5 separate regions of the Homo sapiens genome follow, and all the other regions are linked to region 1. Evidence: fine-mapped expression QTL. A gene starts in region 1. Each other region holds a variant in brackets. All regions are shown on one strand. Distances are between the middles of the regions. Region 1 holds the start of SAMM50 (SAMM50 sorting and assembly machinery component). Region 2 has its middle 10 kb from the start of PARVB. Region 3 overlaps SAMM50 (SAMM50 sorting and assembly machinery component). Region 4 overlaps SAMM50 (SAMM50 sorting and assembly machinery component). Region 5 overlaps PNPLA3 (patatin like domain 3, 1-acylglycerol-3-phosphate O-acyltransferase).

What was found. PIP is the estimated chance that this variant, and not a neighbour inherited with it, causes the effect.
Region 2: its variant is fine-mapped to the expression of SAMM50 in cerebellar hemisphere (GTEx, PIP above 0.99).
Region 3: its variant is fine-mapped to the expression of SAMM50 in whole blood (TOPMed, PIP above 0.99).
Region 4: its variant is fine-mapped to the expression of SAMM50 in whole blood (INTERVAL, PIP 0.91).
Region 5: its variant is fine-mapped to the expression of SAMM50 in ileum (GTEx, PIP 0.99).

The regions. Positions count from the first base shown.
Region 1 is chr22:43,952,192-43,958,403 of GRCh38, reverse strand. SAMM50 (SAMM50 sorting and assembly machinery component) reads right to left here and starts at 2,962. Exons shown (of 15, transcript NM_015380.5): 1 at 2,806-2,962. The coding sequence starts at 2,826. It also overlaps the pseudogene RPL35AP36. RefSeq lists enhancers at 2,218-2,427, 2,233-2,984, 3,108-3,187, 3,268-3,317, 2,985-3,737 and a silencer at 2,870-3,144.
Region 2 is chr22:44,010,801-44,017,024 of GRCh38, reverse strand. It overlaps a transcript of PARVB not described here. Among named protein-coding and RNA genes, the nearest start is that of PARVB, 10 kb to the left of the region's middle. The variant GAT/T (reference allele first, on the strand shown) is at 2,978.
Region 3 is chr22:43,981,844-43,986,843 of GRCh38, reverse strand. It overlaps SAMM50 (SAMM50 sorting and assembly machinery component), which reads right to left. Exons shown (of 15, transcript NM_015380.5): 12 at 2,844-2,911. Among named protein-coding and RNA genes, the nearest start is that of SAMM50, 29 kb to the right of the region's middle. The variant T/C (reference allele first, on the strand shown) is at 2,715.
Region 4 is chr22:43,994,083-44,000,261 of GRCh38, reverse strand. SAMM50 (SAMM50 sorting and assembly machinery component) reads right to left here. Exons shown (of 15, transcript NM_015380.5): 15 at 3,733-3,924. The coding sequence ends at 3,879. It also overlaps a transcript of PARVB not described here. Among named protein-coding and RNA genes, the nearest start is that of PARVB, 27 kb to the left of the region's middle. RefSeq lists an enhancer at 3,913-4,082. The variant C/G (reference allele first, on the strand shown) is at 3,723.
Region 5 is chr22:43,927,843-43,932,842 of GRCh38, reverse strand. It overlaps PNPLA3 (patatin like domain 3, 1-acylglycerol-3-phosphate O-acyltransferase), which reads right to left. Exons shown (of 9, transcript NM_025225.3): 3 at 3,954-4,019. Among named protein-coding and RNA genes, the nearest start is that of PNPLA3, 6.5 kb to the right of the region's middle. The variant T/C (reference allele first, on the strand shown) is at 2,975.

The DNA of each region.
Region 1 (6,212 bases):
ATCAATAAATATGAGCTGAATAAATAATGAGTGATTACTTTGTTCAAGATGCCACAGGGGATGCAAGCCAAGAAGATGCAGTTCCTACCATTACATCTAGAAATTTAGGATCAAAGGATAAGACGAAAATGCAAACAGACCCAAAACAAGCCAAAATGTAAATGGCACCAAAGGAAATGGCACGGAAAGGCGAAGCCCATCCAAATGCAGGGGATAAAGAACTTTCAGAACGGAGTTCTAAAAGATGGGAATATTTTGATGCTAAAGATGGATGATGGGAGGGGGAATGAAGTGCAATAGTGCGGTCCAAATAAAGCCATCCTCACAGGGCTAACAAGAATTCTGGACAAAGGCCAGGCGTGGTGACTCATGCCTGTAATCTCAGCACTTTGGAAGGCCGAGGCAGGCGGATCACAAGGTCAGGAGATCGAGACCATCCTAGCTAACAGTGAAACCCCGTCTCTACTAATACAAAAAATTAGCCGAACATGGTGGCAGGCGCCTGTGGTCCCAGCTATTCAGGAGGCTGAAGCAGGAGAATGGTGTGAATCTGGGAGGTGGAGCTTGCAGTGAGCCAAGACCGTGCCACTGCACTCCAGCCTGGGCACAGAGCAAGACTCTGTCTCAACAACAACAAAAAAAATTATTCTGGACATCTGGACAGAAATGTAGTTATAATTGGCTGGGCGCAGTGGCTCACACCTGTAATCTCAGCACTTTGGGAGGCCGAGGCGGGATGATCACTTGAGGTCAGGAGTTCAAGACCAGCCTGGCCAACATGATGAAACCCCCGTCTCTACTAAAAATACAAAAATTGGCTGGGTGTGGTGGCGTGCGCCTATAATCCCAGCTACATGGGAGGCTGAGGCAGGAGAATCGCTTGAACCTGGGAGGCGGAGGTTGCAGTGAGTGGAGATTGCACCATTGCACTCCAGCCTGGGCAACACAGTGAGACTCCATCTCAAAAGAAATGTAGTTACAATTAACCATTAATCAAGTTGCCTTTTTTTTTTCAAGAGCACAAATCCACATTGATTTATTGACTTTTCATTAGTTTAAATCCTTGAGGGGTACAGCATTACTCGGATTCTGTGTCCAACAGCCTTAGCAGGAAGATTGCTTCAGAATTTGGCACGAATCATGCCATTGTTTCTGTGGGCCCGAGTTACCTTTCCCCAGATTACTCTGGCTTTGTTTGATTTGCCGCCAGGAGTCACTATGTTGTTCTTTGCTTTGTATACATGAGCCCAAATAGAATTCTGTTTCATCTCGGGCATAAACACCTTCAATTTTAAGAAGAGCTGTGTGCTCCCTTTGGTTCCGGAGACTCCACTTATAGCCAGCAAAAATGGCCTTGGACCACAGCCTTCCAGACATATTTCCTTTCAGAAGTCCTGCTCCCGGCAGGCCGCCACAGGAGCCAAGATGGCAGGAAGAGCTCAGGTTGCACTCTGACCTACTTGCTAGTAACCAAAAGTCACAGATACTATTTGCATCCCCATTGATTTTACAGATAGGATTTCTAAAATTAGAATCATAAGGCTTTTGCTTAAGAGTTGCTTTAGATGTTTTTCAGATCTCGAATTCCAGCAAAACTGATGCTGCCAACCAGTTTGAAGACTCCTCCCCGCAACAGAGGAACGGAATCAGCATGAGAAGTTTCCTCATCTCCCTGTCCCATAACTTCACCCTTCACTCTTCCACCAATCAAGGATCTCCACACTTCAGCAAAAACATGAGGTCCAAACTCCTGAAGGAGATGGATTTGAGGTTTCCTCTCTTTTCCCATCTCCTCGTTCAGCGGCCCTGCAACTGAAACTCTTTCTCTGCTGCAACCCACTGTCTGAGTGTATTGACTTATCGAGCACACTGAGCAACAGACCTATTACAGTTACACAAAGAGATGTCAGAAGAGAAACGGTGTTTGATCTGAATGAAAGACATATAAAGGGAAGTTAAGTCCAATTATCGATGTCAGGCTGCGACTTCTGTGCTAAATTTTTTTGGAAGTTAATGGGGAACTACTGAAAACGTCTATGCAGGTCAAGTGAAGCAATCAAAGTTGCAGTAGAAAAGTAGTGTTGGGGCTGAGACTCAGGAAATCTGAGGTTTTAGGCCATTTGGAACCAGTAACTATGTGACCTTGGAGAAGTAACTCATTATCTGGCCCTTATTTAAGATTAGGATAAACGAGAGGAGTTTGGCAACCAGTACAGTTAGTCAGGCGCCAGGCACCCAAGTATTCACATGCATTGTCTTTTAATTCTCTTTTAAGCCAGGCGAGGTAGGTACTATTACTACCTCCACTTTAAAACAGGAAGTAAGGCAGAGAGCGGTTCCGTCTTTTGCACGGTAGACAGGAGAAAAGAGGACCCCTAGATAGGTTTGAGTTAGAAGACTTCAAAGGATTCTTGTTGCTCTAGGAGCCTACAATGGCTCCAGCAGCGGCTGAGCGGGGAAAGGCTGGAAGTGACCAGTAAAGAGAGAAAACTTAAAATCATGCAAAGAAAGAGCACATTCACTGCGGTCTAAGACATCACAGAAAGTTGGCAAGTCCTTTGGGCCACGGACTCGCCGAGTGACCTTTAGCCAAGTCTCGTCCCTCCTATCAGGTTCCTGCTCGAAGGTCTGCAAGACTCGCTGGCCCGAGGCGACCTCTTTTCGGCCTCCTCCACCCAGCCCGGCACCCTTGGCACCCTCTCTCCCGGTGAACCCTGGGCGCAGCCACGAGAGCGTCTCCCCGCGGCGCCCGTCTGCCCTGCTGGCCCAGAGGCCTCGCAGCCCGCGGGTCGCTGGGCCTCTTACCCGGGCGTGCACAGTCCCCATGGTTCCCTCTCCAGCCGCTGCCTCGCAGAGCTGCCCGGGCGGGACAGAGCGTCTGCTGCTGAGGGCAGAAGGCGGGTCCGCGGTGGCGGAGCTGCAGGTCAAGGCAACTCCCACAAACCCCCGGACGCGGAACACTGGGGGCGGCCATGATTCCCCGCCTTCTCCGCGCCCCCTGGCTCGCGATGCCTTCGCTCATTGGTCCTTATGCGCCTGTGACCCGGATGTTCACACGGCCGCGGAGGACGTTCTGACTGCGCAAGCGAAGAGCGTTCACTGACATCCGCGAAGCTGCTGGCGCGTGGACTGTGTGGGGAGGGCGCGTGGGGTGAAGGTGGGTCTGCGAGAGGGTCCGCTGGGAGGCTGGCGTCTGGCGTTGGCGCCTGAAAGAGATCAGACCAGCTGTTGGGTGTCACTCAAGTCCTGCTGCTCTTAGCCCTCCTAGCACCCCCGACCCGAGGGTGCTGTGCTTGTGCCCACGCGCCGGTGAAGCCCCGAGACTCAGCGGGGAGACCCCGGGTCCGGCCACCCCCGAGCTGCAGTAGTCGGGTCTCACCGGCATCTGCTACACAAACCCGGATTGGTGCCCTGGCTCCTTTCGTTCAAGTCATTGGAACCCCCACTCAAAATCGTCAAAATGAAGACGATGGTCGTGTCTCCTTCTTGGGGGTTGGATTAAAAGGGCCTAATGTGAGAGACGGAAAGCAAAGCTCCCGGCACCGGGCCGGGCACACGGTGGGCGCTAGATAATGACCGCTATTCACTCAACTGCAGCCAGTAATTATGGGCGAGGGCCATCTAGGTGCTTGCATGAGAACCAGTCATATCGGTGAAGAAGACGGCCATGGGCTTAGGTTTTGGTGGCAAAACAGCTCCCCTGCCCCAAAAAAGAAAAGAGAATAGAAAAGAAAAAGGCATAATAAATATCAGCCACACATTGTGATAAGTATATTGAAAGAAACGAGACAGAATAAGAAAAGAGGAAGCTTCAGTATCCTGTCACGTTGCCACTCCCTTCTGATAACAGAAGCATCTTTTCTTCTGTCCCCTTACTCCCTCCCAGAAACCCTGACACCCTTTCCATTTAAATAGCAGCACCCTAGGCCTCCAACATCCCTGAGCTAAATATTCAAGTCCACATGTCCCTTCTTGCCTGGAAAGAGACAGAACCCAGCACCAGCCAGGCCCCTGCCCTTCCCTCACTCTCAGTTCCCTGAGCCTCAATTCCTTATCTGTAAAATGGAAATGATAGCCTAAGGCATAAGGTCTGAGGACCTCATGAGATCAAGCATGGGGCCTGGCACTCTGTAAACATCGAATCAACCAGATTTTCTTTGCCCAAACAGCCCTCTTTTCTTACACTTTCTTCCTCGTTATTCTTCTGAGTATGCCACTTGTAAAGGATAAGCCATGAGGTTGCCCTGCAGAGTGCAAGATGGTTGCAATATTTGAGAGCCTATTGTGTGTGAGGCCCTGGAGGATGGCAGAGGGAACAGGAGGAAAACAAAGTCACATGCTTTACCCTCAAACAAAGGGCTGTCTGCGATAGTTACAATGTATATATTAAAGGCTATCTGTGATAGTTACAATGTATATAATATATTAAAGGCTGTCTGTGGTAGTTAACAATGTGTATATTAAAGGCTGTGATAGTTACAATGGGTATACTATATTAAAGGCGGTGGTAGTTACAATGTATATAATATATTAAAGGCTGTGATAGTTACAATGTACATAATATATTAAAGGCTGTGATAGTTATAATGTATATATTAAAGGCTGTCTGTGATGGTTATAATGTATATAATATATTGAAGGCTGTCTGTGATGGTTATAATGTATATAATATACTGAAGGCTGTCTGTGATAGTTAAGATGTATATATTAAAGGCTGTCTGTGATGGTTACAATGTATATAATAAAGACTGAGAAGTCTCACAGTGCATATACTGGTTTCCTTCTCTTTAACCCAGTATTTCTTGAATTTATTGGGTCATAGAGATTTTTGGTTTTGGAGATTTTTCTGTGGCCTCTGGCAATGCTATTCAACAGTATTTCTTGTGCTCCTCTTTTGGGCACAAGAGAGGATTGCATCTCCCTGCTCCCATCCATGTGACTTGCTTTGGTCAACACATTGTGAGCAGAAGAGAGATGTGCCACTCTGGATGAGAACCTTTAAGAACCATATTTCTCTAACCATGCCATGGCAATCAGCGATCCCCCAATGGTGGGGCACCTACAGGCTAGGTCTGGGAGTGAGGACGACTTAAAATGAAGCCCAGCCACATTTGCTGGACATACAGCACGAATGAGAAATAAACCTTTTGGGTTTTGCTTGTTAATGCAGCATAACTCAGCCTATCCTATATGATAATACCAGCTAGAAACATCTTCAAGGAAACCAGCATCCCAGAAAACCTGGTTTACAAAGTGCCAATCTTGTCCAATCAGAAGTAGAAGTGCAGTTTAGTGACTAAGCTAGTTTCCTTAATACAATCCAGGCTGAGTGCAATGGCTCATACCTATAATCTCAGCACTTTGGGAGGCCGAGGCAGGAGGATTGCTTGAGCCCAGGAGTTCAAGATCAGCCTAGGAAACACACCCCATCACTACAAAATAAAAATAAAAAATAAAAAAAATAGCTGGGCATAGTAGCAAGCACCTGTAGTCCCAGCTACTCCAGAGGCTGAAGCAAGAGGATTGCTTGAGTCCAGGAGTTCAAGATCAGCCTGGAAAACAGTGAGACCCCATCTCTACCAAAAAAAAAAAAAAATGTTTTTAATTAGCTTTTAATTTATTTAATTAAAACCTCCTCAGGAAGCTGAAGGAGGAGGATTGCTTGAGCCCAGGAGGTCAAGGCTGCAGTGAGCTGTGATTGTGCCACTGCACTCCAGCCTGAGCAACAAAGCAAGACCTTGCCTCAAAAAAGTAAAGAAAAACACCCCAAATTTAATTGGCCATGGGGAGGGGAGACTGGATCTTCCCACGGGAGTCATCCACCTATTAGTTTGGGACACCCCTTGGGGTGCCCTTTTTCATCACCTTCCCAGGGGCTGAGCGCCCTGAGGTGAGGGGCTCACCTCATTGCCTCTATCAGCCAGCACCTGACCTCTGAGGAGTGAAGGTGAATCAGTGAGAGGAGCCTGGAAGGGCATTCCCTGGGTGGAGGTCCCCTCGGGAAGCAGGGTGACTCAGGGAAGAGGCTCTGAGCTGCTGGTGGGACTGCAGGAGCTGGAGAGGGTGTGCTAGGAGGGAGTCTGGAGGCAGAGGAAGGCGCTGGGGTTGTGGCGGGGCCTCAGCTTGCCCAGCAGCAACGTGGGTCCCCTCGGGAAGCAGGGTGACTCCGGGGAAAGGCTCTGAGCTGCTGACAGGGCTTCAGGGGCTGGAGG
Region 2 (6,224 bases), 59 kb before region 1:
GCACACCTGTAATCCCAGCTACTCGGGAGGCTGAGGCAGAAGAATCACTTGAACCCAGGAGGCAGAGGTTGCAGTGAGCTAAGATCATGCCATTGTACTCCAGCCTGGGCAACAAGAGTGAAACTCCATCTCAAAAAAAATAAAATAAAATAAAATGGGGAAGTAAAAACAGCCACAGGTCGAACATCCCTAATGAAATGGTTCAAAATCTGAACATTTCTGAGCACTGACGTGATGCCAAAAGTGGAAAATTCCACACCTGACCTCACATGACAGGTTACAGTTGAAGCACCAGGCACATAACACACAGTTTATTCAGCAGCCCCAGGGGAAAAAAGACCCTTCCAGCCCCCTTCAGCTGTAATATCTCTTGTACATAAACTTTGTTTCACGCACAAAATTATTTAAAATATTGTATAAAATTACCTTCAGACTCTGTGTACAAGGTGTATATGAAACATAAGCGAATTTCATGTTTACACTTGGATAGGATGATGTGTTATTGAAGTGGCCTCATTTGTCTGGGGTGATACCCGAGATTCATTGTCTCACAGCCACAGAAAACTAAGACATGGACACACAGAGAGTGAGGTTTAGAGTGGAAGTTAATAGGTGAAAGAGAAGAGCTAGGCCAGGCACAGTGGCTCATGCCTGTAATCCCAGCACTTTGGGAGGCTGAGGCGGGCGGATCACGAAGTCAGGAGATCGAGACCATCCTGGCTAACACGGTGAAACCCCGTCTCTACTAAAAATACAAAAAATTAGCTGGGCCTGGTGGCAGGTGCCTGTAGTCCCAGCTACTCGGGAGGCTGAGGCAGGAGAATTGCGTAAACCTGGGAGGTGGAGCTTGCAGTGAGCCGAGATCACGCCACTGCACTCCAGCCTGGGCGACAGAGCGAGACTCCATCTCAAAAAAAAAAAAAAAGAAAGAAAGAAAGAAAAAGAAAAAGACAGAGAAGAGCTCTCTGCCCAGAGAGAAATCCCAAAAAAATGCGTTGTTGGTTCCATGGTGAAATGTCAGGGGATTTTACAGATTAGTTTGAGAAGGTGGTGTCTGATTTGCATAGGGCACAAACGATTGGTTGGGCCAGGTGTGCCATTTGTATAAGGCGTGAAAAACTGGTTAGAGCTAGGTGTATCATTTGTATAAGGTGTTAAAAGTTGGCTGTCTGCACCCTAATCTTTTTTTGTTTGTTTGTTTTTGTGAGACAGAGTTTTGCTCTTGTTGCCCAGACTAGAGTGCAGTGGCACAATCTTGGCTCACTGAAACCTCCGTCTCCTGGGTTCAAATGATTATCCTGCTTCAACCTCCCAAGTAGCTGGGACTACAGGTGTGCATCATCACCCACAGCTAATTTCTGTATTTTTAGTAGAGATGGGGTTTCACCATGTTGGCCAGGCTGGTCTCAAACTCCTGACCTCAGGTGATCTGCCCGCCCCAGCCTCCCAAAGTGCTGGGATTACAGGCATGAGTCACCGCGCCCAGCCCCAATCCTATGTATTATGTAGATGGATTCTCTGTCTGGCCAGTGTCATGTTGTTCGTTTCTTTATTGTATACGTGGTAACAACAGAAAAGGAAAGATGGAGTCTTCATGTTGGGTACGCCTGGCCCCAGGTAGCCCTTTTCTATTGGCACAGCTGTCTGCATTCACCCATGTAAGTTTTTAGCATGTTTATCTATGTTTGCAGCTTGATTTTTCAGGCTGCTCTTTGTTAGAAAAAAAATAATTTTGGGGGCTGCTTTTTATTAGAAGAGAGATCTTGTCAAGGACTCTTTCACCCTCACTATCTGTCTAAATAATTTCTTTCTATCTCCTGTATCATTATTAAATGCAGGTTAGAACTTTTTTTTTTTTTTAATTGCTGTGTCTGGGCCAGGCGCAGTGGCTCGCGCCTGTAATCCCAGCAGTTTGGGAGGCCAAGGCAGGCCAATCATTTGAGGCCAGGAGTTTCAGACCAGCCTGGCCAACATGGTGAAACCCCATCTCTACTAAAAATACAAAAATTAGCCAGGCATGGTGGCGGGCACCTACAATCCCAGCTACTCAGAATGCTGAGGGAGGAGAGTTGCTTGAACCCAGGGTGCGGAGGTTGCAGTGAGCTGAGATTGCACCACTTCACTCCAGCCTGTGCAACAGAGTGAGATTCCGTCTCAAAAAAAAAAAAAATTGTTGTGTCTGTTGTAATGATTTTTTTGTCTTGTATGTGCTACAGATGACAATCAAGAACTGGCTTGATGGCTGTGGACTAAGTTGTATTTCTTTTCAAGGTGAGAGGAAGGAAGGACAATGATCAAACCGGAAAAACTTTCCTCCTTCCTGGCCTGGCTCCTGTGGAGTTTACATAACTAGCTTTCTCTCTGGGGTAATCTCACTAAAACTACTTTCCAAATTGCTTTGCAGAGCAGCAAACATAAATATTAACTTCAAGATTGGAAAGTGCCACTTTCTAATAAAAAGAGAGAATTTAATGAGATGCAGAAATATGAACTTAGCTCCTTCTCCATCAATGCCGTCTTTGCTTCTTAATATGCTCCCCACATATGCCTCGTGCCAGGGCTATGCATACATTGTACACTTGGAGAATGATTATGAAAATCAGATTACATGCAGCTGCCCCTATTAAAGAAAACCATTTGGTTTGCTTTTGAACTGTGGCTTCTGAAGAGGCCAGTTCCATATAATCTTAATTAAGGACAAGGAGGAAACATTTCCTGAGCTGGTGCTGCATGCACTCTGTGCCCCATGCTGGGGGCTGCACTGTGTGATCTCAGTCAACCTCCCTTACCCACACTCTTGCCTTGGAGAATCTGGGCCTGCAGAAAGAGGGACCTGAGTCCAGTGTGTTTGAACAAACGGAAACATTGTTCCTCTGTGTATAGTACCCAAACACAGGACCCTTGAACAATACATGCTGGAACTGTGCAGGTCCACTTACATGTGGATCTTTTTCTCTTCTTTTCTTTTTCAAACAGA[GAT/T]GGAGGTCTTGCTATGTTGCCCAGGTTGGTCTTAAACTGCTGGCCTCAAGCTATCCACCCACATTAGCCTCCCAGAGTGCTGAGAAAAATCTTTTTCAATAGAAGTTACACCGAGCCAGGCATGGTGGCTTACACCTGTAATCCCAGCACGTTGGGAGGCCGAGGTGGGCAGATCACTTGAGGTCAGGAGTTCGAGAGCAGCCTGGCCAACATGGCGAAACCCTGTCTCTACCAAAAATACAAAAATTAGCTGAGCATGGTGGCGGGCACCTGTAATCCCAGCTACTCAGGAGGCTGAGGCAGGAGAATCGCTTGAACCCAGGAGGTGGAGGTTGCAGTGAGCCGAGATCGCACCACTGCACTCCAGCCTGGGAGACAGAGTGAGACTCCATCCAGAAAAAAAAAGAACAATGTAGTGTATCTCCAAAACATTATGTTGAATGAAAGAGGCCAGACAGATGCAAAAGAGCACAGACTGCGTGAATCCACTTATTTGAAGTTCAAGAGCAGGCGACCTCTGTTCTGTGTTGATAGTGGCTTCGCCGGCGTGGTGAGGGGCACTGAGGATCTCCCCTGCATATGGGCACCAGCAGGCTGGCTGGGTGATGTGCAGCCTGATCTGGTGGTAGTCACACAGTGTACACAAACGTGAAAAGTCAACAGACGTTCCACTGAAACGTGTGCATTTCCCTCTATATAAATTAGACCACAATAAATTCTTGGGGAAAAGAAAGTCAATACGTGATACCCCTGGATGGGATAATTTGGATTCTTTACATGTGTGAGTTTCCTTCTGGATAACATGGCAGCACTCTAAGTGCTTAAAGAGGGTCTTAAAAGCTGCAAGCGGTCAGGCACGGTGACTCACGCCTGTAATCCCAGCACTTTGGGAGGCCGAGGCAGACGGATCACCTGAAGTCAAGAGTTTGAGATCAGCCTGGCCAACGTGGTGAAACCTTTATCTACTAAAACTACAAAAAAATTAACCGGGCGTGGTGGTGCGTGCCTGTAGTCTTAGCTACTTGGGAGGCTGAGGCACGAGAATCGCCTGAACCCGGGAGGTGGAGGTTGCAGTAAGCTGACATCGCGCAACTGCACTCCAGCCTGGGTGACAGAGCGAGACTGTCTCAAAAAAGTTAAAAAAAAAAAAAGTTAAATAAATAAAGCTTGTCAGCTTTCTTTCACTTCTCTTTAATAGAACTAAAAAGAAGCTGATATTTCTCAAAATAAATAAATAAATAAAAACCGCCTGTAGCTCTTTGGGAGAGAAAAGGGAACTCATTCCAGGGAATACTTAAGACTGTGAAATGTCTTCTTGTGTTGTTCATTTTCAGACCTCCAAGCAATTTTAGGCGAGTTAGAAGTGTGTAGAGAAGTGATGGAAATATTTAATTGATGTGCGATGGAGAAAATGCCTTATTTCCCCCAGGTTATACTTTTGAGGCAATCTTACTGCACTTTGGGGTAGGGTTTTCAAGCACGCTGTAACCATAATATCTAAACTAGCATTTTGAAATGGTGTTATTTAATCAGTCTGCTAATTTAGTGATCTGGCAAGAGAGTAACCTGCGATGTTCACAGTAAATACTAAGAGCAGGAGGAGATGACCAGACTTGCCTAGAATTTTAAAACTGTGATGGAAACACTTCTGCCCATGCCACGTGTGAGCAGAACATGAATCACCAACTACACTGATCAACCGTCTTTCACTCAAATGATTTTGGAAGCATCAGCAAACTCTGAGACAAGGGAAGTTGGATTTTCATTTATTAGCAATTCCTCCGAGTTCTCTTTTTGCATACCAGGCAGAGTAAACCACATATGCGTTTTGTTCCCTTAAATATTTTATAGATGAAGAAGGAATAAATAACATGGTACCAAGTTATTGGTTCCTAGTCTTCCATGGGGGAAAACTGGGAAAGTCCCCCAAAGATTATGCCCCCTTTAAAAAAAGACTCCCCTCTGACCAGCTATGAGAAAATGGGGGATGAGCAAGCTCCTTGAAACATGCCAGGACCTCTTAGGTGGGTGGGAGAACAAAGGCCAAGTCTATTAGACATTCACACCTTAGTCTGAATTTCTTTTGCCATTCATTTGCCATCCAGGTATCACCTGCTTGCAAAATGAAAGGTTTTTATTTTCTCCTCCCACCCAATTTGAGAGCAGTGAGGGGATGAGAGTGGTGTTTTGGATGAAGGAGAGAATGATGACGGGGGTAGGGGAGAACTGAAGTGTAGGGCTTTGTGGGAGGGAACTTGCTCTACGATGCTGGAGCTAAGGATGTGGCGGCCATAGCACATCATGAGAACATTGCTGTGGCCAGGGAAGACACAGTGGTCTACGGCAGGGGTGTGTAAGGGGCCAGACAGACTCTGATGCAAGGACTCAATTTTTTAAATTTTATTTATTTATTTATTTACTGAGACAGCATCTCACTCTGTCACCCAGGCTGGAGGGCAGTGGTGTGATCTTGGCTCACTGCAACCTCTGCCTCCCAGGTTCAAGCACCAGCAGGCTTACAATGTTCTTGCCTCAGCCTCCCGAGCAGCTGGGATTACAGGCATGCACCACCACGCCTGGCTAACTTTTGTATAAAGTAGAGACAGGGTTTCATCATGTTGGCCAGGCTGGTCTCAAACGCCTGACCTCAAGTGATCCACCTGCCTCAGCCTCCCAAAGTGCTGGGATTATAGGCGTGAGCCGCCGTGCCTGGCTACAAGGACCCAATTTTGCTATTGTAGCTTGAAAGCAGCCACAGATGATGTGTAAGCAGGCCAGGTGCGTGCAGCTCCCACCTTCATCCCAGGGCTTTGGGAGGCTGAGGCAGGAGGATCACTTGAGCCCTGGAGTTCGAGAACAACCTGGGCAACACAGCAAGAGTCCATCTCTATGAAAAATATTTTTAAAAAATTAGTCAGGCATGGCCGGGCGCAGTGGCTCACGCCTGTAATCGCAGCACTTTGGGAGGCCGAGGCGGGAGGATCACGAGGTCAGGAGATCGAGACCATCCTGGCTAACACAGTGAAACCCTGTCTCTGAGGCAGGAGAATGACGTGAACCCAGGAGGCAGAGATGACAGTGAGCTGAGATTGCGCCACTGCACTCTAGCCTGGGCGACAGAGCGAGACTCCATCTCAAAAAAAAAAAAAAAAAAAATAGGCATGGTGCCTAATTCCAATAAAACTTTTTTTTAAGAACACAGAAATGTGAATTTCACATAATTTTCATATGTCGTAAAATTTTTG
Region 3 (5,000 bases), 29 kb before region 1:
CAGTGACTCACGCCTGTAATATGAGCACTTTGGGGGGCCAAGGCGGGCAGATCACCTGAAGTCAGGAGTTCAAGACCAGCCTGGCCAACACGGCGAAACCCCATCTCTATTAAAAAATACAAAAATTAGCTGGGCGTGATGGCGGGCACCTGTAATCCCAGCTATTCAGGAGGTTGAGGCAGGGGGAATCGCTTGAACCTGGGAGGCAGAGGTTGCAGTCAGCTGAGATCACGCCACTGCACTCCAGCCTGGGCAACAGAGCGAGACTCCGTCTCAAAAAAAAAAAAAGTAAGAAAATCAGGGGAGAATGTTTAATAATGGAATAATATGCATCCACTTAAATGATGTTTTAAAGTTCCATAGCATGTGGAGATACCTCTGACGGATGTTGCATGTCAGAGACGGTTCTAGGAGTATAAATGAGACAACCTTCCCAGAAAGTACGATAAAGCCCTAAAAGATCTGGCGATTTCACATCTAGAATTTCATATTAAAGTAAAACTTGGCCAGGCGTGCTGGCTCACACCTGTAATCCCAGCACTTTGGGAGGCCAAGGCGGGCAAATCACGAGGTCAGGAGTTTGAGATCAGCCTGGCCAACATGGAGAAACCCCGTCTCTAATAAAAATAGAAAAATTAGCCGGGCATGGTGGCGGGCACCTGTAATCATGCTACTCAGGAGGATGAGGCAGGAGAATCACTTGAACCTGGGAGGTGGAGGTTGCAGTGAGCTGAGATTGCGCCAATGCACTCCAGTCTGGGCAACAGAGCAAGACTCCATCTCAAAAAAAAAAAAAAAAAGAAAGAAAGAAAAAATAAATAAATAAATAAAACTTACAGATGAGTACCAACATTCAGTTCGAAGGTGAATACATTGTTTTATAATCATAAAAGAAAAAAAAAAACACAAACTCAATGTCCAAAGCTTGGGATTTGGTCTTTAAAAAGATAATAGTGTGTCATAAGACAAAACACGCAGCCATTAAGATGATAAACTTTCTCTCTCTCATTCCTCACTGGGGAAATGCAAAAGGACGCGGCCACCCCGGAAGCTCGCCTGGCAGCTCCTTACAAAGGGGAGGCGTGCTCTTAACACGTGACCAAACAACTGCGCTCCCCGGCACTGACTCAGCAGATGTGACAACTTATGTCCCAGAAGCTGTCCACAACAACCTGCGCGTGAATGTTGATAGAAGCTTTACTCATCACTGCCAAACACTAGAAGCAACCAAGCTGTCCTTCGGCAGCTGAATGGACAAACAAACTGTGGTACTTCCAGACAAAGGAATATTATTCAGCAATAAGAAGAAACAAGTTATTGGGTCCCAGAAAGACATGGAGGGACCTTAAGTGCATATTACTACGGAAAAGAAGACAACTTGAAAAGGCTACAAACTGTATGATCCCAACTCCCAAACTGTCTGGAAAAGGCAAAACTCCATGGATAGTTCAAAGACCTGTCGTTTCCAGTGGTCTGGTGGGAGGGATGAAGGGAGCCCAGCATTTTTAGCGCAGTGAAGCCACTTTGTGTGATCCTGGAATGGTGAATGCAGGACATCATGCATTTGTCAAAGCCCACAGAAGGTACAACACTAAGAGTGAACCCTCATGTAAACTATGGCCTTGAGTTAATAAGGTTATCATATTGCTTCACCAATCCTAACCAATGAAGCATCCTAACACAAGGTGCTAATAATAAGGAAGCTATGGGGGTTATACGGGAACACTGTACTTTTTGCCCAACTTTTCTGTAAACCTAAAACTGCTCTAACAAATTAAGCCTATTAACTAAAATATAGGATGTCAATAATATGAAATATGTACCTGTTAAAAATGGCATTTACTCGCATAAAAATATACTGTTACATTTTTATGGGAGGTGATGAGAGAAATGGGTTTAAAAATAATACGTAGGGGCCAGGCGCAGTGGCTCACATCTGTAATCCCAGCACTTTAGAAGGCCAAGGCCGGTGGATCACGAGGTCAGGAGTTCAAGACCAGTCTGGCCAACATAATGAAACCCCGTCTCTACTAAAAATACACAAAAAGTTAGCCAGGCGTGGTGGTGTGTGCCTGTAATCCCAGCTACTCAGGGGGCTGAGGCAGGAGAATCGTGTGAACCCGGGAGGCGGAGGTTGCAGTGAGCCGAGATCGTGCCACTGCACTCCAGCCTGGGCGACAGAGCGAGACTCTGTCTCAAAATAATAATGATAATATTAATAATAATACATAGGGGTCGGGCCCAGTGGCTCACACCTGTAATCCCAGCACTTTGGGAGGCTGAGGCAGGCGGATCACGAGGTCAGGAGTTTGAGACCAGCCTGGCCAACATGGTAAAACCCCATCTCTACTAAAAATACAAAAATTAGCTAGGCATGGTGGCGGGTGCCTGTAATCCCAGCTACTTGGGAGGCTGAGGCAGGAGAATCATTTGAACCCAGGAGGCGGAGGTTGCGGTGAGCCGAGATCGCGCCATTGCACTCCAGCCTAGGCAACAGGGCGAGACTCCATCTCAAAAAAAATAATAATATGTAAACAAAGGAAGAGTAGGAAGCACATGTCAAACCTGCAGGGAACAGACAACAACACGTTTACACATGTTCTCTCTGGGTAGGACTGCGGGTCATTTTCACAGAGTTTTTGCTCAGATATATTTTCTCATTTTCCTACAATTCTCTCAATAAATGTTCTACACCTGCTACATGGTAAGTTCTG[T/C]GTTAGGTGCTAATTCCACCACCGTGAAAGAGGAATGTCTATTATCGCTGTAAGCTAATAACAGGTACATGGTTTCCAAAGTGAGACGCGAGCCTTCTAGACTTGGCGCCGTGAGGGGAAAGGACAGACCTTCGCTCTGTGGCCCGATGCTGTGCATGCTGAATCCGCGGATGCTTGTGGGTCCCCCAAGGTAAAACCTAGGACAAAACAGCACACAGGTCAGAGGAAAGTCAGGAGGTGAGAAACGACATGACACACGGAACGCGTAGGAAACACATGTCAGACTCACATTCGATACTAGATTATCGACAGCATTTTTACAAGGCAAAACCTTTGAGAAAGACCAAGAGGGTGCACACTACAGGGGAATTTCATAAAAATCTCAACATCTAAGGAGACACTGCAAACTTTGGAGATGCAGGTGAGACACAAGATGCCAAGAAACACACTAGGAGAGAGGGGCAGGGCAAACTGTCTGTCACAAAGGAACTATCAGCTGTCTGTGAGAATTCATGACGCAGTTCCTTTTCATGGCGGGCCTCCTACTGGCTCACAGTGCGATATTAGGGGAAGAAGAGCAGGATACAAATTATTTAATAGTATAATCCCAATATTACAAAAAGGGGGGCTATAATACTAGAAACAGACCAAAAAAGAATTCTTGTTAGGTTTATAATTTTTAAATATGAGCTCCTCTTGTTCCCTAATGAACTGGATTGTCACACTCTCACCAACCATATCTGAATAATATGAAAAGCGTGAATTAAAAATTAATTACATAAAAACCCATCCACTTTCTGAAAAATTGAACAGCATATTAGAACCCGATTTTAGATTATGATAATTACTAAAAAATGAATTTAAATGACAAGAGAAATTCTGTGTAATCTTTCCAGCCAAGAGGCAGCCAAGGACACAACCCCGGCAGGTGCCCTCAGAGCCCTCTGACCTTTGAGGCCGCGGGAGGCTAAGAACACCCTGCAGGTCTGCAACAGCACAAAGGGAACAGGGCGCGGCTTTTTCTGGTTTTCCTACCAAATAAAAGCCTTTATGAATTTTTTCATTTTAATTTGAGTTTTAAAACCTATAAATATGTTTTTACTACTTGGGATTTCTAAGCAAGGCTTTTCTGAATACCCCATTAACATGAATTGCAAAAACAGCAAGCTTCGTTTTTAAAGAAATGATCAATCAGGCCACGTGCGGTAGCTCGCGCCTGTAATCCCAGCATTTTGGGAGGCTGAGGTGGGCGCATCACCTGAGGTCAGGAGTTAGAGACCAGCCTAGCCAACATGGTAAAACCTCGCCTCTACTAAAAATACAAAAATTAGCTGGGCGTGGTGCCGGGTGCCTGTAGTCCCAGCTACTTGGGAGGCTGGGGCAGGAGAATAGCTTGAACCCGGGAGGTAGAGGTTGTAGTAAGTCGAGATCGTGCCACTGCACTCCAGCCTGGGTGACAGAGTAAGACTCTGTCTCAAAAAACATACATAAATAAAATAAAAAAGAAACGATAAATCACACATTTGAATTCAAATGATCCAGGATGCATATAACATAACGAGTGAAATGGTTCTGCCTGCTGCATCCCAGGCTCTGGGGTGCCCACCGTCACTGTTTTGGTGGCTGGCTTCCCAGGCCCTCGGTGCTACACCTGCATGCACGCTGGAAAGGGATCCACTAAACATATTCATGTGCAAAATGTTAACTTATGAACACATATCTCCTTATTTTTAATAATTACATAGATCTGGAATGGTTGTGCTAGAATTTCACCATTTCCCTACTGCGGAACTTACATAAGGCAGTTTCAAATTCTTTGCTATTCATCAGCAATGCTACAATGGACATCCTTCTACACATAAATCTTTACACACTTAGAAAAGTACTTTTGTAAATTAGATTCATGGAGTTTTGTGAAACTGTTAGGATCCAGAGTTTATAAACCTAAAATTGTTCTACTTCCAAACCACCATCCAAAAAAGCTGTACCAGTATATTTTAACTAATGCAGGGTTGAAAAAAAAGTTTTTTTGCCCTAGAGGACAATGATTAGTATTTCGAAGCAACAAGTACAAGTTCATACCCTGCTGGTAGGGGTATAAATTGCTGTAAGCTTCCTAAAAGCAGCACCCAGCAATACTATGAGTTTTACTTTGAGAGAGTAATACCACAGAAAATAAAATAAACAACAAGTTATCTTAAAAGTTATTATTTACAATGTTATTTACAAAAATCACAAATTAGAAACCAATGAAATATCAAAAAATACACGGTAGGCTAAAAAGTT
Region 4 (6,179 bases), 42 kb before region 1:
CAGACAGGCAAAACAATCAATCTCTGGTGTTAAAAATCATCTAGCCTTTACCTTGGGGGTAGAAAGCCCTAGAAAGCTCATGAGTGGCATCCACTAAGAGTGGAATCTATTGCTGAATACACCAAGATCTTCTCCTTTGGTAGAAGAAAAACCTGAGGAAAGCAGTGAGTGGATTTGGTAAACAGCCCCAACAGGGCAAGAGCCAGGGCCCCTGACCCTGGGCTCACTGCTAGTCCACTTTCTTTCTTTTTTTTTGTGACAGGGTCTCGCTCTGTCACCCCAGCTGGAGTGCAGTGGTGCAATCACGGCTCACTGCAGCCTTAACCTCCTGGGCTCAAGTGATCCTCCCACCTAAGTCTCCCAAGTAGATGAGACCACAGATGCATGCCACCACACCCAGCTGTTTTTTTTTTTTTTTTTTTTTTTTCATATAGATGGGTTTTCACTATGTTGTGCAGAGTAGTCTCAAATTCCTGGGCTCAAGCAACAATCCTCCCTCCTCAGCCTCCCAAAGTGCTAGGGTTACAGGCATGAGCCACTGCACCCAGCCCTCATCCACTTTCTGACAGTTTTTCCCCCAAAACTTACCTCCTCCTTGAGCATATTCAGATGTTTCCACTCCTGATCTGTCTGAGCCAGGGAGAAGTGAACCAGCCAGAGAAGCCATGAGTGCCTGGGAGCACAGGCCCCAGCTGCAGGAACACCCACGTCTCAGCTCCAGCCTCCTGCTGCAGGTAGGAATGAACATTTTTTGTTTGTCGGATCCAGTTTCTCAAGAGAAGCTAGAAATTTGGACTTCTGAGTACAACCTGATTTTAACAACATTCGTTTTGTTTAAATCACAGCTCACCAGTTTTTGTTCTCTGGACTAAGGAATCCCCTTTTCTCTCCTCTTTGGTGATCTTTAAACACATGGTGCATTTGTGCACATCTAACTGTCCCAAAGGTAAATTTATCTGGTCTTTAAAAAGGGAGAATTCAGAAATTAAAATGAGTTCTTAGTTTAAGGAGCTGCCGGAGATGGGGAGGACGTCAAAGTGTAGGGCCTTTGCAGGAGTCACCCAATGGGAAAATGTGGCCTGATGGCAGATCCTCACCAGGTGACTGTCCTTTGTCCTAGTAGCGATGGCATTTGGCAGAACAGTCTGCTCCCTCACTGGGTCATAAGACTTGTAGACAGCAGCCAGGTACAAAAGAGCCTTGTGGCACAGTGTGGCAGGCACACCACTGATGAAACCGTTTGTTAAAGGTCACAGTGTGTGTACCGAGAGCACCGCAGATTCACGATAACAGAGGAGTGATCCATCACAGCTGTTCTTCCAGAAGCATTGTGAAGATTAGGTTCACTAAAATCAATCTTCTTGTTACAAATGGAAGATGACCGAGCCAGCAGGCTTCCGGCACGGAGCCGGCAGCATTCTTCAGCGGAAGCAGCCCACTGGTTTCATGGCCCATCCCTCGCCGAGTAAAGCAAGAGGTTAATTAAACAAATACCCAGCTCTCTTCCAGTCCAGAAAATTGAGGTATTTAGAGAAGAAACGGAGTAACATTAAGATGCAAAGAATCACTGAGCCAAGGGAGGATTTCATGGGGGATTTTGTGAGGCTTTCCATCTTTCTTTGCTCTCTGAGCTCTCTAAAATAGCAGCTATGAAATTCCTTCCCACAATGAACGTGCCTTATTTTTGGTCTTTTGTGGAAAGCACTTGATGAAGTGCCTCTGGCTTCACGCTCTAGTCTGCCCACTTACCACCTTCTGAGGATGAACAGAACCCGCATTTTCACCCAGGACCTCCACTGTTTTCACTTCACCTGTGGAGGAGCAGCCCGCGGAGTCCACCTGCAAATTAAACACGCTGCAGCCGCACGAGAGACAGCTGGCCCTGGTGAGCTTTCATTAAGGAGCTGGCTGTAGCGACCTGGGGTACCCCAGACTTGCTTGATTAAACAGGTAACTTTTCTCAGGTGACCCTTTCGCTGGGTTCTCCACTGATGTAGTAGATGATTTCTCAAAGATCATAGTGCTGAGTCTGTATTATTCAGATTTCACTGGTCTAAGTTGATGGTCTGATCATGACAGTGTTGAAACATGGGTTTCTGGTTTTCTCAAAGGCATAAGCGTGAAACTGTAAAGAATAAATCATTTAGGGGGAAAAAGCACATTTTTCCATGTTCCTAACTATTATAAGGAAGGCAAAACTCTTTTTTTTGAGACAGAGTCTCACTCTGTCGCCCAGGTTGGAGCGCAGTGGCGGGATCTCAGCTCACTGCAACCTCTGCCTCATGGGTTCAAGCGATTCTCCTGCCTCAGCCTCCCGAGTAGCTGGGACTACAGGCATCTGTCACCACGCCCAGCTAATTTTTCTATTTTTAGTAGAAGTGGGGTTTCACCATGTTGGCCAGGCTGGTCTTGAACTACTGGCCTCAAATGATCCACCCACCTCGGCCTCCCAAACTGCTGTGATTACAGGTGCAAGCCACCACGCCCAACCAAAACTGTCTCTTTTTATATATTCTCTGTAAAATCCCTGCAGCTTCTGCAGGTAATGAGGGCGAGACAGTCCCGGGGCACCTGAGAGTGTGGCCCAGGGATAACATGGGTCCCCAGACTGAGGCCCAAATCTTCAGGTCATTTGGCAAAGACATAAACAACAAGTTACGGGGAGGACTGAAAGTGACGGGGACTCAGCCCCAGCTGAGAGAGAGAAAAAATCGGAGAGTAATGCATGTGCGAAGCCCTGCGGGGCATCACCTGCAACACTAGACGTTTCCATATGGCACCACTTTTTCAATTCAAAGGAGGTTTCACGTTCTTCAAAAACTTTTTTTATGTGTGACCAATTTAAGATTATCCCCCAAATATTAGAGAGATACTAGTTGTGTGAGACAGAATAATGTCCCGCACTCCCACCCAGCCGAAGACGCACACCTCCTAATCCCTGGATCGTGTAAACGTGACGATAACATGACAAGGGGGCGCTAAGTCTGCAGACGGAATTAAGGACGCTCATCTGCTGACCTAGAAATAAGACCCCTGGATTCCCCGGGCAGATCCGAGGTCACCACAGGGGTCCTTCAAAGACAGCAGAGACGCAGAGGAGGCAAGAGGGAGAGATGGGGGACACCACATGGCTGGCTTTAAAGATGCAGGTGACGTCGGCCAAGGAATGTGGTGCCTCTCACTGCTGGCAAAGGAGGGGGATTTCCCCTTAGCGCCTCCAGGAGGACGCAGCCCAGCAAGACCCATTCTGGACTCTGATCTCCAGACTACAAGAGGATTAATGTGTGTTGTTTTAAGCCCCCACGTTTGTGGTGACTTAGAGCAGCCCCAGAAAACGCACACTCATTCATGCTGCCATTCGTCTGTAGACACCAGGCTCCGTCTTTGCTTCAGTGTCCCTAATGTTACACGGTTTGGGTATTTCTCCCTTGCCACTCACACACTCAAATGGCTCGAGCACTGTGGCTCCAAGCGCCCGCTGCCGTGGGCCTCCTCTGACAACGGCTGGTGCATCGAGGGGAGCGCGCCCTCTCCGTAACAGCATGGCTGAGCTTCCTCTGGGGCAAAGCTCCCTCCTGCTGCCTGGCTCTGAATACATCATGTCTGGTACACGGGAACCAAACACGGAGACTCGCAGACACTGGGCGGGTGTGTGAGAACACGGGTGGTCCCGGGGAAAGGCCACGCGGGCCATACTGTTGAGTGAAAGCAAACCACATCCA[C/G]GCTGCCTCGGAGTGTGTCTTTAACATTTATTGACGGGGTTTCCCACAGGGTCCGCAGTCAAAGAATCGCTGAACCGCGTTTCCTCGAGAGACGGTGTGTGGCATGGGCGCCTTGCTGCTGCCCCAGTCCCAGAGCTTCTCCTGTAGGGGTGTCGGCTACAGGAACCTTATCCCAGCTCCAAACTGGACGCCATCACATATCCTAAAAAAAGGGGAGAGATCAGATGCGGCGGCCGCTCCGCCAGCCCTGCCATCTTCACGACTCACTGAGCATGCGCCTCTCAGAAGGTGCCGCCTCCGCTTCCTCCTCCTCCTGCTGCCTTCCTGCCTGGCTGCCGGCCTCACCCTCACCGGCCCCGGCTGCTTCCTCCTTTGCTGGTTAAGAACCTTCACCAGCTGGTTAAGCCCTCGGAGAATGGAAAAGGGAAAGAAGGAGAGACCCAAATCCTCCTGCACTACTCCCTCCTCACCTCCTTCACGTTCCCCTCTCCGGACGGAGAGGACAGAGGGCCGATGAGAGGCGGAGCAGGGAGGGAAGGAGCCGGAAGGACAAGGTGGGTAGTGAGGATGGAGGAGAGGCAGGTGGACAGAACTTAAGGTCCGCCCGGCCCCCAGAAGGTCCCGGGGCTTAGGAAACCAGCAGTACCCACAGCCCTACAGGGGTTTAGCCTGACCACCTCTTAGACCTGCTCCTGACCCCAGGAAGGAAGGATGCAAAGGTCACATTGGTTGCCATATCTGTTATGAGCTGACCTTCTGCAGGTGTGACTCCACACAGTGGTTAAGAACCTGGGAACAAACCACCAGACCCATTTTCAGAGAGGAGCAAAGAGGCTCCAGTCACACGGCTGAGAAGTGGCAGGACAGGACTCCAGACCCGGCTCAGGGGCACCCACAGGCCTTGTTCTTTCCGACACACTGCCATGCACAGCTGGGGGGCAGCCTGTCCCCCTGACAGCATGCCTGCAGCAGCTCTGTCCGCCTGGAGCCTGTGCATGGGGCAAGGCCAATGCTGCCCATTTGGGACAAGGTGGGCCTAACCTAGGGACCTCAACTTCTGGGGAAAATGATATTCAGACTCCTACACAGCCGCAGCCGGGGCCAGGGAACACAGCCTTTTTGCAAGCTGTGGGCAATTTCTAGAAAAGGCCAGCAAGAATGGCTCCTTTATTCACGACGCCCGTGCCCTTGCCCAAGCTGAGGATTTGGAGCACATGCACACCGGCGGCAAGTTTTCCTTTTCCAACCTGACTCTGAGCAAGAAGACACAATATCTGATCCACGAAGAGATTCAACACAGATACTCACAAATGCTGCGCCGGCCTCCTGCAGGATGAAGGGTGCTTATTAACCAGCCCCGGCACTGCAGTCCTCTCACCAGAAGCCAGGACTGCAGCCCCTTCAAGATTACAGTAAGCCACATCCATGGCCTTAAAACACCAGAATCCACATCAAAACCCGGGCTGCATTTGTACCATTTAGTTGTGTTCAGATCTGTTTTTAGATTGTACACTCTCAGCTCCTTCAAACTAGTCTATACCTACATTCGCTACTTAGAAAAATGCCTGAACATAAGCTAGGAGCTAAAAAGGAAGTCAAGCTCTTGGCATATGTAATTCAGAAAACAAGCAAGCATTCTAATAAAGGCCTGTCACTCTAAGTACAAACAAACAGATTAAACAACTTCACAAGCATAGGTTTATGCTCAGAGACCACATAAACATGTCACAGAACAAAATACCCACTGCAAACATTCAAAGCAGCGCTGCGAAGTTCCACCAGACCAGGGGCAAGCCAGCCTTGGCATCCTCCAGACAGCCCCAAACATCCACCTTCTGCTGTGCACCCCACGCTCTCTCCCTCCCTCACGGCCGCTGTCTTGGTGCAGGGCTCCTGGTCATCTCCCACCTTCTTCTCACCCAGCACTGCCACTGCCGGCACAGGGTCTTGGAGTCTGATGTTCAAAGGCTTCTGACGAACTTGGACTCTGAGGCTGGAGGCCAGGAAGCACCCAGCATGGGGTGCTTTAGGAAGGTCATGCCAACAGCACCCTTGGCGCCTTGCACCCCACCTCCCACCACACGCCAGGAGCCTCTCCACCTGGCTCTCACTTCCAACACCAGGTGCAGTTGTAGTCATGGGGACCTCAGCGGTGAACAAGGCAGATGAAGTCCTGAGCTCAAAGACCCTGGCATATACCCAAGGGGAAAAAGGTCAGCGGGGCTGGAAGGCAAAGGCGTGGGAGCTCAGGGCCTGGACCTCCCCACTCCCCCTTCTGTTCCTGTAGGACGCGGTTCTGCCCGGTGCCCGCCGACAGCGCACACCTGCACAGCTTTGCTCCTGCCTTTGTTAGCCAGGACCACTGTCCCTGCGTGTCTTCTGCAAGCACCTGGCTGTCTGTCCTCTAGGAAGATTCAGCTCAGGGACCTGCTCCAGGGGGCCCTCTCAGCACCCTCC
Region 5 (5,000 bases), 25 kb after region 1:
GAAGCTCTGGGTTAGTGCTTAAGTGCTTAACAAGCTTTCACATGTGGGCAGAGCTTCTCAGAGCCACAAACAGGCTGATATGGAGGGAGGACATTGGCTTTGGAATCACTCCTGCGACAAATCCTTACCGAGCATTCCGGTGCTAGGACAGGCTCTACTCTGGCTCTCAGGGTTGCCGTCTACTGTTGTACAGTGTGTGCACTGCACAAAAGTGCCTGGCAAAGAGGCAGATGGAAACTGGAGTCCATGTTGTGTTGGCCAAGTCCTAGGGCCAGATGGGCACCTATAGGAGTGCCCATGTAACATGCCTAAGGGGGTCATATGAACTAAAGGGTGCTCAGTGCACGGGGACAGAGTGTGATGGAAACCCAAAGGAGAAACATGGTCATGGATTCAAATCCAGACCCCTTTGCTGCTTGCAAGGAGGATACAGAAATCTGGGATAAGACCTTTAACCCATGAGCCCATCTCCCCCCATGCTTTGACAATTAGAACCAACACCTGGAGGGACTTTTGAGACTTAAATGAAACAATGAACCTGGGACCTCAGAAAATGTCCTCTAACCCACAACACAGCAGCATTTTGGATAAATTATTCTAAGGGTGAGTTTTCCTTCATCTATATCCTTAAACCACCTTATTGCCCATAGCTCGGCTGGGGCAGGCAGCTTTTGCTACAATTTGGACAGAGCCTGCATCTGTGAAACTCATGTCAACAATGATTTCCAGCCACAGCCATCACAGCCAGCCATCAGAGCCAGCCATCAGATACCCACAGAGAAAGGCATCCAAAAGATTCCAGCTGGGAGGCTCTCCCCAGCCCGCCCTTCCACACGGAGGAATTTCAGAGCAGAGTTTGGCCTAAAACAGGTCCAGGAGAGAATCAGACATGTTCAGCCACACCTTAGCCATCAAGATTCTTGCCTGGAGTCCAGAAATGATCACAAGTTTACACAGCAACATTTCCAAAATCGTAGTCACACAATTTCTAGGGCAGATGTAGCAAGGCATCAAAAACCTCACTAGGAGCTGGGCATGGTGGCTCACGCCTGTAATCCCAGCACTTTGGAAGGCTGAGGCACATGGATCACTTGAGGCCAGGAGTTCGAGACCAGCCTGGGCAACATGGTGAAACCCTGTCTCTGCTAAAAATACAAAAATTAGCTGGGCATGGGGATGTGTGCTTGTAATCTCAGCTGCTCGGGAGGCTGAGGCAGGAGAATCGCTTAAACCCAGGAGCCGAGGGTTGCAGTGAGCTGAGATCGCGCCACTGCACTCCAGGCCTAGGTGATACAGTGAGACTCTGTCTCAAAAAACAAACAAAAACCTCACTGCATAAAGAGACACAGAATGAAATGCTAGGAATCTGGAGTGAAGACCAAGGAGGAAGGCGGCTGGTGGATCATCTTCATTCAAGGGGTAGTCAGAAGCCCAAATATTCTCCTGCCATGTACAACTTTTCCATGCATTTTGAACTTTTTTATAGTAATGTTTTGAATTTAGGAGCTCCAGTGGTGCAATTGATTAGCATGCGGTATGTACACAGTAATGCTTTGAATTTGCTTGCATTGAATTTGAAGAATAATGGGTTCTAATTGTCAGGAAGATGCCTATGAGCGCACTCAACGGGTGATGACACAGCATCTCGGGCCTCTATACATCAGATGCCAGTGGCACTCCCCCAGATTTTGTTTTGTTTTGTTTTGTTTTGTTTGTGAGACGGAGTCTCGCTTTGTTGCCCAGGCTGGAGTGCAGTGGCAGGATCTCAGCTCACTGCAAGCTCCGCCCCCCGGGTTCACACCATTCTCCTGCCTCAGCCTCCCGAGTAGCTGGGACTACAGGCGCCCGCCACCACGCCCAGCTAATTTTTTTCGTATGTTTAGTAGAGATGAGGTTTCACTGTGTTAGCCAGGATGGTCTCGATCTCCTGACCTCATGATCCACCCACCTCGGCCTGGTACTCCCCCAGTTCTGACAACCCAAACTGTCTTCTGATGTGGCCAGACATCCCCAGAGGGGGTTGGGGAAGGATGCAAGACTAGCAAGTGAGCCGGCACAGACCCAATGCCTACTCCAGAGCCTGCAGAACAAACACTCCTGCTTCGGCTTCTCCATCCCCCTGGCATGGCTCAGAAATCAGCCAATGCACATATTCACTGAACTCAGCCAAATCTGAACACTGCCAGCAGCTTTTGAACAAAGCTATGGGCTGAAAAGGACAGAGTAGGACCCAGAGGGCTTGAAACTCTCGACCAGGAAGGAAAGCCAGAACCGTGCACTGGGGAGCCAGAGAGCATCACTACGGTGCTGCTGGGTGCACTCCTGCTGAGTTCTGGGGAAGATCAAATAACCACATAAAGCCACCAGCATAACAAGGGGTTGGGGTCCTGCTGATGCCCAACCATGCTGTGGCAATGTCGGAAATCCAAAATATGCTTTGGTCACTCAGTAGCTGGGCACTCCAGTGGCTCCGTGGACCACTATCCTGGACCCCAAACTACAGAGAATGAGAAGAGCCGCCCTGCAGTGAACCAAGACATGCCCTGTTCTGACAGAGGAGCAGAGAGTGACCTGGGTGCAAGCTCGCTGGCCGTGCTCTTTGGGCAAGTATGACTCTCAAGTTCCCCACAGCCACACAGGATGAATAATCACATCTCCCCTTGGTTGTGGGGACCCTATAAGATAACGCACAGGAGCACGTAGTCTGTAATGGGAGGCTCCTAATGCGAGTCCCTCTGCCACGTGGCTCTGCTGGTGCTACATACAGGATTGCATCAAAGGTTCCGCTGCTGCTCTTGTGAGTTCAAAAATTACCCTAAAAGGCTAGTATTTTACAGCCTAAACTTCCTCCTGTGCATCACAAAGTGGCAAAACAAAACAAAGCACAAATCTAGGTTAGACCAGGCTGACAGATTTTTGTTGTTGTTTACAACACATGTGATTGTTGGCCGGGCACCATGGCTCACGCCTGTAA[T/C]CTCAGCACTTTGGGAGGCCAAGGCGGGCGGATCACCTGAGGTCAGGAGTTGGAGACCAGCCTGGCCAATATGATGAAACCCTGTCTCTACTAAAAATACAAAAATTAGCTTGGCGTGACGGCAGGCACCTGTAATCCCAGCTACTCGGGAGGTTGAGGCAGGAGAATTGCCTGAACCTGTGAGGTGGAGGTTGCAGTGAGCCGAGATTGCACCACTGCACTCCAGCCTGGGCGACAGAGCCAGACTCCATCTCAAAAAAAAAAAAAAAGAAAAGAAAAAAATATATATATATGACTGTTATAGTTCCCCCTAAGAGTAAAGCTCCACCTTCCAGGGGTAACAGATTCTTCAGTGTCATATACTTTATTTACCTTTTTTTTTTTTTTCTTTTTGAGATAGAGTCTCGCTCTGTCACCCAGGATGGAGTGCAGTGGTGCGATCTTGGCTCACTGCAACTTCCGCCTCCCAAGTTCAAGCAATTCTCCTGCCTCAGCCTCCCGAGCAGCTGGGATTACAGGTGCACACCACCATGCCCAGCTAATTTTTGTATTTTTAGGAGAGACAGAGTTTCACACTGTTGGCCAGGCTGGTCTCGAACTCCTGACCTCAAGTGATCTGCCTGCTTCAGGCTCCCAAAGTGCTGGGATTACAGACATGAGCCACCGCGCCTGGCCAACATCATATAGTTTAACTAGATCACTGAGAAGCTATCTGATGCTTAAGGTGCAGATTAAGTGAACCAGCCAGTTTACCTTACAGATAGCCAAATAATTAATTACACATGCAGTAAGTTTTGCTGCCCGGGTAGCCTGGAAATAGGGCCAGCTGTGGCTACTCTGTCTGAAAGGCAGTGAGGCATGGGGCTCCACCATGGGACAGACCCTGAGGTGCCCGACACCAGTGCCCTGCAGGCAGGAGATGTGTGAGCACACTTCAGAGGCCCCCAGGACTCAGCGCTAGCAGAGAAAGCCGACTTACCACGCCTCTGAAGGAAGGAGGGATAAGGCCACTGTAGAAGGGGATGAAGCAGGAACATACCAAGGCCTGTGAAAGCAAAGGAGAGAGAAGTTATAGGCGAGAGCACCCTTTTAATTTTCCTGATCCTTCATAAGCTTTCTCCAAGTGAGCAGGGCAACAAACTTGAAAATGCCCTTTGCACAGAGTAGGTTAATCCATGGGTCAAAAGAACGGGGAACTAACATACACCCTCGGACTTCAGGCCCATGGGTCTCATCTATTGCATAATCCCCTTAACAACCCTGTCAGTGAACTTCAACTTCCTCTCCTTGCTCCCCATGAGAGTCACACTGGGTCACCACAGACAGGACCAAGGGTTGTTGGCTCATGGACTGAAAGGGGCTAGATCGGTGCTGTTCAAATGCCGGTATTCATTAGCATCACCGGAGAGCCTGTGGAACCAGAGATTCTGCGTCCCTCCCCAGAATTCCCATGCAGCAGGTCAGAGGTGGGACCTGAGGGTCTGCCATTCCAATAAGCTCAAAGGAGCTGCTGCTCTGCTGGTCCCAGGATCACACTTTGCGAAGCACTGTGCTACAGAGCAGTCAGCAGGCACCACGGTGATTCACTGGGAGAACGGACCCATGTGGGAACAGACAAGTGCTGGCTGTTTAGAGAAAGCTTCCGCAAACAAGGTTAAACAGAGGATGCAACTGGCTGCAGGTTAGACGCGCCAGGCTGCTGTCTTGCACAGATCTGTCAAGTAAATGGAGTCCTTCCTCCAAGGAGCGCTTATGAAAGCATCAGCTGAATTTAATGGTGTTTTGGTATTACAAATTATCTTCTCTCTGCTAGACCCTGAGGATACAGGCAAATAAGGCACGTTCCCACCCTTGTAGGGTTTCCAGTGAGAAGGCATCTTCATTATGGAAGATGCATAGAGGAAGCTCGGGAGAGGCACACCTGCAGGACAGGTTCCTTGGACTGGACGGTCATGAGCCAAGTGTTGAAGGAAAGGGAGGAATTATTTGAAATTGTAACTGCCAGGCAGAGGTGGGCAGATTACTT